2 separate regions of the Homo sapiens genome follow, and region 1 is linked to region 2. Evidence: fine-mapped expression QTL. A gene starts in region 2. The other region holds a variant in brackets. All regions are shown on one strand. Distances are between the middles of the regions.

What was found. PIP is the estimated chance that this variant, and not a neighbour inherited with it, causes the effect.
Region 1: its variant is fine-mapped to the expression of ABCA2 in whole blood (TOPMed, PIP above 0.99).

Annotation. Positions count from the first base shown.
Region 1 is chr9:137,079,902-137,084,273 of GRCh38, reverse strand. It overlaps UAP1L1 (UDP-N-acetylglucosamine pyrophosphorylase 1 like 1), which reads right to left. Exons shown (of 9, transcript NM_207309.3): 6 at 4,132-4,272; 7 at 3,400-3,585; 8 at 2,210-2,276; 9 at 1-1,637. The coding sequence ends at 1,545. Among named protein-coding and RNA genes, the nearest start is that of UAP1L1, 4.6 kb to the right of the region's middle. RefSeq lists a silencer at 521-755 and an enhancer at 533-862. The variant A/C (reference allele first, on the strand shown) is at 1,839.
Region 2 is chr9:137,025,862-137,030,233 of GRCh38, reverse strand. It overlaps ABCA2 (ATP binding cassette subfamily A member 2), which reads left to right and starts at 1,997. Exons shown (of 49, transcript NM_001606.5): 1 at 1,997-2,159. The coding sequence starts at 2,094. It overlaps LINC02908 (long intergenic non-protein coding RNA 2908), which reads right to left and starts at 2,770. Exons shown (of 3, transcript NR_171031.1): 1 at 2,323-2,770. FUT7 (fucosyltransferase 7) reads left to right here. Exons shown (of 2, transcript NM_004479.4): 2 at 1-60. RefSeq lists an enhancer at 1,112-1,856 and a silencer at 1,740-1,919.

The DNA of each region.
Region 1 (4,372 bases), 54 kb before region 2:
GCAGTGAGCCAAGGTCACGCCACTTCACTCCAGCCTGGGCAACAAGAGTGAAACTCCGTCTAAAACAAACAAAAAAAAAGACTTCACCCAACTAACTGTGCTTGTGTAGAAAGAGGTTGCATCCCTGTTCCAGTCATGGCCATGAGGAACAGCTATGAGAAGGGCCCTAAGGCACAGCATGGTTTGCAGTAAGAAGGGCAGAGCCAGGGAGAGAGAAGTAAACATCATCTTCTGGGCTTTGGTTTCAAAAATCACAAGGTGTGGGCCTGAGCCTGCTGCCTGCCCAGGTCTGGGCGCCTCCACTCAGCCACTGTCCTCCCAGTGCCTCTAAATCTGGAAGGCTGCATCTGAACCTGCCCTTCCAGACAACACCCCTCCCCTGGGAAACCAATGGGGATGAGTAGTGGCCCTCCACTGGGGACTGTGGGTTTCGAGGTGGGGGCAGAGGATGAGTTGGCAGCAGTGGCATATCATAGCTCTCTTCATGTCAGCAGGGAGAGGGAGGTGCCACTGCCTCCCCTGAGATGAGAAAGCAGGCGAGAATCACCAGGGGAAGAACCCTGGGGCAGCTGGCTTGTCCCAGCCATGCCTGAGTGCACCAAATATGGAGGCTGCGTCCTCACTCGGAGAGCCAGGCAGCCTGAGCACCAAGATCCGTCAGAAGCAGCAGGCAGCTGGGGTGAGGGGTGGTGCCTCTGACTCATGAAATCCCGGATTAGTCAGCAACCATCACAGAGGCCGCCGGCATTGATCCCACTGGTTCTTGGGGAAGCACAGAAAACTCAGCAGCCTAAACCGACCATGGAAGAGGCTGAGAGGCAGAGGCCTTGGGGATAGATGGGGAGAAGGCAGGAGTACCGGCCGCAGGCTCAGGTGTCCAGGCCAAGCTTCTCAGAGCCACCTGGATCATGGACATCAGGCTCTTTCTGTGGCCTTGCTGGGCATCCAGGGTGTGTGGGCTGGGATGCCCCAGCCTTGCCCCCATTACTGGTTCGTCTGCTAAGGAAGAGGGGGCAGCCCTCGAGTGGGTGGAATTGTCCCCCTCATTCTGGTTCTGCATCTGTAGGCTGCAGAAGCACATCCTGTGTAGCTTATGCAGCTTCTAGTGCTCGGTGGGGTGTGGTGGATCCACAAGGCGGGCTCCCAAAGGGACATGCCCTCCTGTTCTCCCCAGATGACACCACACCTCCCTTGGGCCCCAACCCGAAGCCTCCTCTCAGCCCCATTCTCCCAGGTCCCAAGTCCCTCTGCCTCTTGACTAGACCCCACAGCCAGGAATGGAGCCACAGAGCCCCCAGCAGGCTGTCGCCACTTGTGTCCAGAGGCGACAGGAGAGGCCCTGCCCTCGTGGAGTCTACCAGCATGTTTCATTCTGTGTTCTGCAGGCTGGAAGCATGGGGCAGGCTGCTTTCCCACCCAGAGCTCAGGCTGGGCTGTAGCCCCCAGCTCCAGGACGCCGGGGCTGGCAGGTCTGGGGGGAGTCGGGACTTCCAGGATGCCGGGGCTGGCAGGTCTCGGGGGAGTCTGGGGACAGTCTGGGCGGGTCAGGACTCCTGCAGCTGCGGCTCCCTGGCCTGGTCTTCATCCAGGATGAGCGGGGACTGGAACTCCCGGCCTTGCAGGTACACTTCTAAACCCTGGAGACGAGCAGGGGACAATGGCCAAGTACCCACCTTTTGGCGGGTCACAGCCCCTCTGGCCACACCAAGAGCCACAGTCCCCAGGTGCGATCCCAGGTCTGCCTGGAGTCAGGGAGGGGTGGGGACAGAAAGGCTTCCAGGGCCAGGAGCAGACACACACTGCAAGGCCACCCAAGACCACACTCAAGACCCTAGGCC[A/C]GCAGGGGACCCTCCTGTCACGCACAGGTCTGACCTGACCAGAGAAAGGGGCAAGGGCAGCCGAGGTCAGGGAGGTAGCAGAGGCCGGTGTCCTCCCTCCGCAAGGCCCCCACCAAGGCCTGACTGGCCCCACACTGGGCTCAGACCTGGGCTGTCTCATCCCCATGCCCTCCCAGGACCTGCAAAGGCCTCTGGATGCCTCACCCCACCCCAACCCATATCTTGGAAAGTCTTCTGCAAATTTAAACCACCGACCCCATTGGTTAACCGAGGTAGAGCTGTGCCGTCTCCACCCGAGCAGCCACCTCTCCCCAGATGGTATTCCAAACCTGACACCAGAAAAGCCCCAGATAGGGATGGGCAGCTCTCACCTCTCCAGAGTAAGACACCAAGGGCGATATCTCACAGATGGCCGGAGGGTCTCCATTTGGGGGCAAGCTAGGGAAAGTCCACTTGTCAATATCTCCTTGCAGCACCTGCCCAGAGCCCTCCCCCAGCACCCCCAGTCCCGATAGGAGACTGAGCTCTACACACCTGGCTCCCCACAGCTCCTGTCTCAGCAAGCTCATCTTCCTCTGGACACCCCAAACCCTGAGCACACATCCCACTGCCAAGTGACAGGACCTGATTTGGGGTAGAAAGCACCCCCACAGGCCTCCCACGCAGAGCCTAGGCAGCTAGATTTAGGGGTGGCCCTAGAAAATCAGGGAGATGGAAGCCAAACGTCCTTTTCTTTCCCAGCCCTGAAATCAAACTGTCCTGCTACTTTCTAAATTCATGCCCGGGGCTCAGTTTCAAAGCCTGTGAATAAATGGGAACAACGTTGGTTGGGTGATGGATCCCCTAAAAGCCCTGACCTGACTGACCAAAGTTGCACACACACCCCACAAATGTATACAAATAAGAAAAATAAAAATAAAAAAATAGCCGGGTGAGGTGGCTCACGCCTGTAATCCCAGCACTTTGCGAGGCCGAGGCGGGCAGATCACAGGTCAGGAGTTTGAGACCATCCTGGCTAACACGGTGAAACCCTGTCTCTACTAAAAAAAAAAAAAAATACAAAAAAATGAGCCGGGCGTGGTGGCGGGCGCCTGTAGTCCCAGCTACTCAGGAGGCTGAGGCAGGAGAATGGCGGAAACCGGGGGAGGGTGGAGCTTGCAGCGAGCCGAGATCCCACCACTGCACTACAGCCTGGGCGACAGAGCGAGACTCCATCTCAAAAAAGTAAATAAAAATAAAAATAAATAAATAAAAGCCAAATCTAAGTATGCCTTTGTAAACAAACCAAAACCTTGTGGATAAGTTGGGGAGGGAGTTGGGGAGCCCCTGCCTCCCTCAGTGCACTGAGCACAACTTGAAGGGTCGGGCCAGGAGGCTGTGCCGACAGTCACCGTGTGACCTGGAGCTGGCTGGGCACAAGGCTACCTGCACCTGCGGTGGTGCCGGGAAGGAAGACCCCTCCCCAGCATGGCTGTCGCAGAGCCAACAGGGCTCTGGAGCTGAAGATTGGGTCCTGACAGCCCTCCCCTTCTGGCTGTAGCTACCCCAGGGCCACACTCACCTGGGCAGCTCTGGGAGCCAGGCCCCATGGGCATCCAGGAAGCGGGCCCCGGCCCGCAGAGCCCACCGGTAGTGCTGGGTGAGCAGGGCCTGGCGAGCGGTGCGGGGACTGTCCCTGTCGGCTGGCTCTGCGTTCTTCAGTGGGGAAAATTCCTCCTCCCGCAGCACTTCCAAGGCAGCAAAGTTCCTGGTGGGGAAAGGGCTAGTCACCCACGTCCCAGCACAGAGGCCCTGATCCGGGCAGGTGAGAGCTGGGCCAGGTTTCCAGTGACAGAGTGAAGGTCTGGTCCCATGGGCAGCAAGTCTAGGGAGGAGCCCCCGCAGGTACTGAGTGTTTTTGCTCCTGAGACGCCAGGGATGGCCCAATCCCAGCAGCCATTTCCAGCAGCCGAAGGCCCAACCCTGGGACCCCTGCAGTGAGGGCCAAAGGCCCTGCGAGCCGCCCTGGCAACCTGGCCAGGAGACCTCTCCTAACCATGGGTGGGGGCAGTGGAAGGTCCGGGAGGTGGCACTACTGTCCTCCCAAGTCCACAGCCCCAAGGACTCCCTATGCCCCCACCTCAGGGGCTGCTTACCCTCAGGGCCAAGAGCACCCTCTGGTCTTCTCCCTGAGACTTGCCCGCGGGGCCCTTGGCTCCCTCAAGCCTCTACTTCCCTACCAGCTGCGCCTCAGTTCCCACCACCAAAACTGAGAGAAGGAAGAAGGGGAAAATAAATGAGTTCTACTACTAACTTAGCAAACCGGAACACATCAAACACAAACTTCTCCATCTTTATCCCGTTCGGTTTTAGCGGCTTTACCAGATTCCCCTCCTCATCCACATACGGGACCTTCTTCACAGCCACGTGTGGCTTCAGCAAAGGCTCAAACTCCCTGGGGCACGGGAGAGCAGAGGGGAGGAAAGAAACAGATCAGATATGGCACCGCTGGGGGCTCTGTCCCCACTTCTGAGCACACCCAGCTGGGTGGGACA
Region 2 (4,372 bases):
AAACCAGCTTGTTCTGGGCTCAGGGAGGGAGGGCGGTGGACAATAAACATCTGAGCAGTGCCTCGTGGGTCTGGCCAGTGTCTCATGGGTCACCTCCGTGCAGGGCCACAGAGCCTGCATCTGCCCTCCCCTGACATGTCGCCCCCACGGCCATGGGGCTGCTTGTTCCCCACGGGGGGTCCTGTCGCCTGACTTCTGGGCCTTTGCTCACCCTCCGCCTGAGAGCCCTCCCTGTGCCGGGCTGCCCACTGGCTACCCCAGTTCCTACAGCCTCCGCCAGACGGCCCCTTATCAGAGAGCCTTCTGTGTCCCCCAAAAGGCCAAGGCGATGAGCCCAGGAGTTCGAGACCAGCCTGGGCAGTGTAGTGAAATCTCATCTCTACCAAAAATACAAGAATTAGCAGGGCGTGGTGGCTCACGCTTGTGGTCTCAGCTACTTGGGATACTGAGGTGAGAGGATGGCTTGAGCCCAGGAGGTTGAAGCTTCAGTGAGCCGTGATCACACCACAGCACTCCAGCCTGGGCAACAGAATGAGACCCTGTCTCAAAACAAAAACCAAAACAGGCCAAGGTTGGGGAAGAGTAGGGAACGGACGTCAGAGGCCTGGCCAGGCTGAAATCGCCCATCTCCCAGGCCCGCAGGCTGGAGGGTGTCTGGGGTGACAGGGTCTGACCTGTGCCTTGTAGCTCCCTCTGGTGGCCAGTGCTGGGGAGGCACTGGGGATGCGGCTGCAGCCAGGGAGCCCCTGTAGTGGACGGTGGAGAGTGGGGCGAGGAGGAGAGAGGCCAACCCACGGGTGGTGCTGACCAGGGCCCCAACAGGCTAAGCCCCCGGGGCTGGGGCACAGGGCTTGTCCCTACCCCAGGTAGGGGTGGGCAGGTTGAGGGCAGGAAGCCCCCCTCACCCATGGCTGTGGCTTGTGGGAAAGACCTGCTGGTAGCTTCCTGCCCTGACCCAGCCCTGTGGACTGAGCAGAGAAAAGCAAGTGCCTTGAGGCTGCGGGCTGGGGTGGGAAGCTGATCCCTCACTCACTAGCCCAGGGTCACCTTCCTGCTGCAAAGGAGCTGGGAGGAGTGGGGAGCTGTGGCCTCGGAGGTCTTCATTCACTTGAGGATGCGCCTTCTATGTGCGCCCTGACACTGGACACCACACAGCGCTACTCCACCCCATTCACAGGGGGGAAACTGAGTCTGGGAAGCGCCGTCAGAGCCACCCATGGGGTCAGCCTGTCCTCTGTCGCTCTCTACAGGCCACGCGGAGGAACTGCCCCACCTCCCGGGGCGCCCCAGCAGGTGCCAAGCCACAGCCGCAGAACCGCCTGATCCCGAACTCCCTGTGCAGAGACCAGACTCGCCCGAATATGGGGAGAAAAACGAGCCGCGTGCAGCAGGGGCCGCCTCGGTCCCCTGCCTGCTCCGCTCACGGCGAGCGTTCCTGGGGCCTCGAGTTTCCCCCCTTCCGCTGGCTGCTCGGAATCGCGGGACGGACCCACCTGGCCGCCCTGCCTCCCTTCCAGGTGGGCACCACCTGGACTCCAAGTGCTGGTTTACAAAGCACACAGGAGACCCTTACGGGGGTGAGCTGGCCCCTCGCCAGCGTCCGCTCGGCGCGCCCCGGGGACAGTGAAGGCTTGGGGCGCCTCTGCAGAGTCGCCAGCGCGGTGGGCGCAGCCGGATGCCTCTGGGAGAAGAGCGCAGCGCCCGAGGGTCCCCCGGCCTACGAAGGCTAAGCCGGGGTCTCGGATTCGATGTGGGCGCGTCGCGTGACGCCCGGCGAGGGGCGGCCCGGAGGCTTCCCGGCGGCGGCGCGCGCAGGGTCTCGGGCCCGGGTCGGTCCCGGGCGCGGCGCGGGCGGCGGGCGCCTCCTGGCGGGCGCGGACGGAGCGCGGCGCCTTTAAGCGGGGGCGGGCGGGGCGCGGGCAGAGTCGCTGTCGCCGCGGCCGCCGGGGCGGAGCCAGCGCGGATCGGGTCCCGGACGCCCGAGCGCCCCGCCCCCGCGCGGGCGATGCCCAGCGGCGCGGCGGGCTGCGGGGCCCGGCGGGGCGCGCAGAGGAGCGGGCCGCGGCGCTGAGGCGGCGGAGCGTGGCCCCGCCATGGGCTTCCTGCACCAGCTGCAGCTGCTGCTCTGGAAGAACGTGACGCTCAAACGCCGGAGCCCGGTGAGCCCACCCCACGCGCCCGCCCTCAGCCCGAGGCCGCGCGCACCGCGGCCAGAGGCGCGCTCCCCGCGCGCACGTGCGGACGGCCGGGCGCGCGCAGACCCCGGCGGGCGCTGGGGGCGGCGCGGGCCCGAGCCCCCTCCCCGCCGGGCCCTGCCCTCGCCTGCCGGCGCTGCGGCCTCCGGGGAGGTGGCTCGGTCGTGTCCAGTCCGGTCCCGCGTCCGCTGACATCGCGGTGCTCGGCTGAGTCACGGCACCCGCGCCCTCTGCAGCGCGCTCGCTGGGGCCGCTGTGGGCGGGGGGCAAGCGGCGCTCAGGACTCTGGCTCGAGGGAGGCCCTGGTTCCCAGGACAGAAGGCAGGCCTGGGGGGCTCCATTCAGCTGCGAGGCTCCATGGTCCTTGGGCCCAGCCTCCCTGGGGTCCCGGAGGAGACCCTGTCCCTTCCCTCCGTCCACCCCTCCCCTGCCCTTGGGCCGCGGCCTGCCATAGAGGTTGGTCCCAGGCATCTCTCCGCCTCCCCTCCTGGCACATCCGTGACCCTTGCTCATGCTCTCGCCACTGGGAATGTCCTTGTGCCAGCCTTGGCCAGCCTGAATCTCTGCACCCATTTGTCCTTTGGGGTCAGTTCTCCCCGAGCCTGATCCACTCTGTTGCCTCCTGGTCCCCCCACCTGCTCTGGGGGCTGGGTCTACTGTTTGGAGCTGTGAACCCCGGCTTTCCCAGCACTGCCTGGGCAGCCAGTGGACCTGAGGGTGCAGGACACATGGCTGTCAGGGACAGAAGTCCTTCGTGGAGCGAGGGGCTTGGGGATATGGGTGTCCTGCCATACCCCCAGCTGGCCAGCTTGGCTCCAGCCTGGGAAGGGAAGGGACACCTCCCAGGCCACAGGCCTGGACCAGCTTAGGTTTCTGAAGGCCCTTGGGATTGTCCAGGCCAGGGCTCAGAGCAGGTGGGGGCCTAAGGCAGACATCCTCTTGCCCAGCCAGGGCCCGGGCGGGACCCCTTGGGCTGCACCAGTCCGTGCCTGTTTATCTTTCAACATGCACTGCAGGAAACCCAGGCTGCAGTCAGCTGGGGTGGCCATCATCACCATGGCTGGCAGAATTCCCCTGGGCACCTGGCCTTGGCGGGGAGCCTGGGTTAGGTACATGCCCTGGCCAGGCACCTGGAGCTGGCTGAGTGGGGTCCCATGGATCAGGCCTGCAGCCCCTGGCATTGAGTCACTGGGGACAGCAGAGCAGGGCCAAGGGAACAGGGATGTGGCATGTGGCATGCATTAGTATTAGTCCCCGGGGGTGGTTGTCAGGAAGGTCCCCACTGGGCTTGGGAGCAGAGGCTGGAATGGTGGCCCCTGTTCCAGTGGGGACAATGCTCAGGGAAGGGAGTGTGGCCTATGAGGGCAGCTGGCAAGCAGGTGGGAGGTGTGCACTGTCCTGACCGCAAGAGTGACTCCCAGCTGCTGGTTTGGGCTGCCCCCCAGGACCTTTTTGGGTCCCCACCCTACAGGGCTCCCAGAGGCCCACTGGGCCACAGTGGAGGTCCTTAGCCCATGGCTGGAGCAGGTGGGGAACTGTTTCCCCCAGGGAGGCTGAGTCCTTGCCAGGCTTGTGATGTGGGGCTGGGGCTGGCTGGACACTGGGCACACTCCTGCTGGGTCCCCACTTTCCTGGGAAGGATCTTGGACATCAGAGCTGGACTCTTGGGGCCAAGCTTGGATGACAGAGGTTTGCCCTGTGTGCCATGCGCCCTGCTGGGGCAGGGGTGCACCCTGGGCAGAGCTCCACCCTGGGCAGAGCTCAGGGTCTGGAGGGTGGGTGCCAAGGACCTCTGTGCTGCTAGCAGGCTCCTCCAAGCTCTTTGCCTCAGTTTCCCTGTCTGTGAGTGTGGCCTATCTCCTCTTAGTTAGCTGGACTTGGGTCTACCCTTGGGCTACAGGCTGCTCTTGGTGCAGGGACAGGGTCACTGTCATGAAGTCACTGGGATGGCAGATGGCAGCGCCACCCTCGGGTCTCACCTGTTCTCCCCCCGACACAGTAGGCGGGAGCTACAGGGAGGGGTCATGCCCAGAGAAGGCATCTAGGCCTCCAGGCGATGTGAAGGCACTGGGCTGGTCTCGAGGGACGGAGGTTGGGCCACCTGGAGGCACCTGTGTGGGGCACCCAGGGCGTGCTAGACCTGTGCTGCCGCCTGTAACCAGATGCTGCTGTGGCGC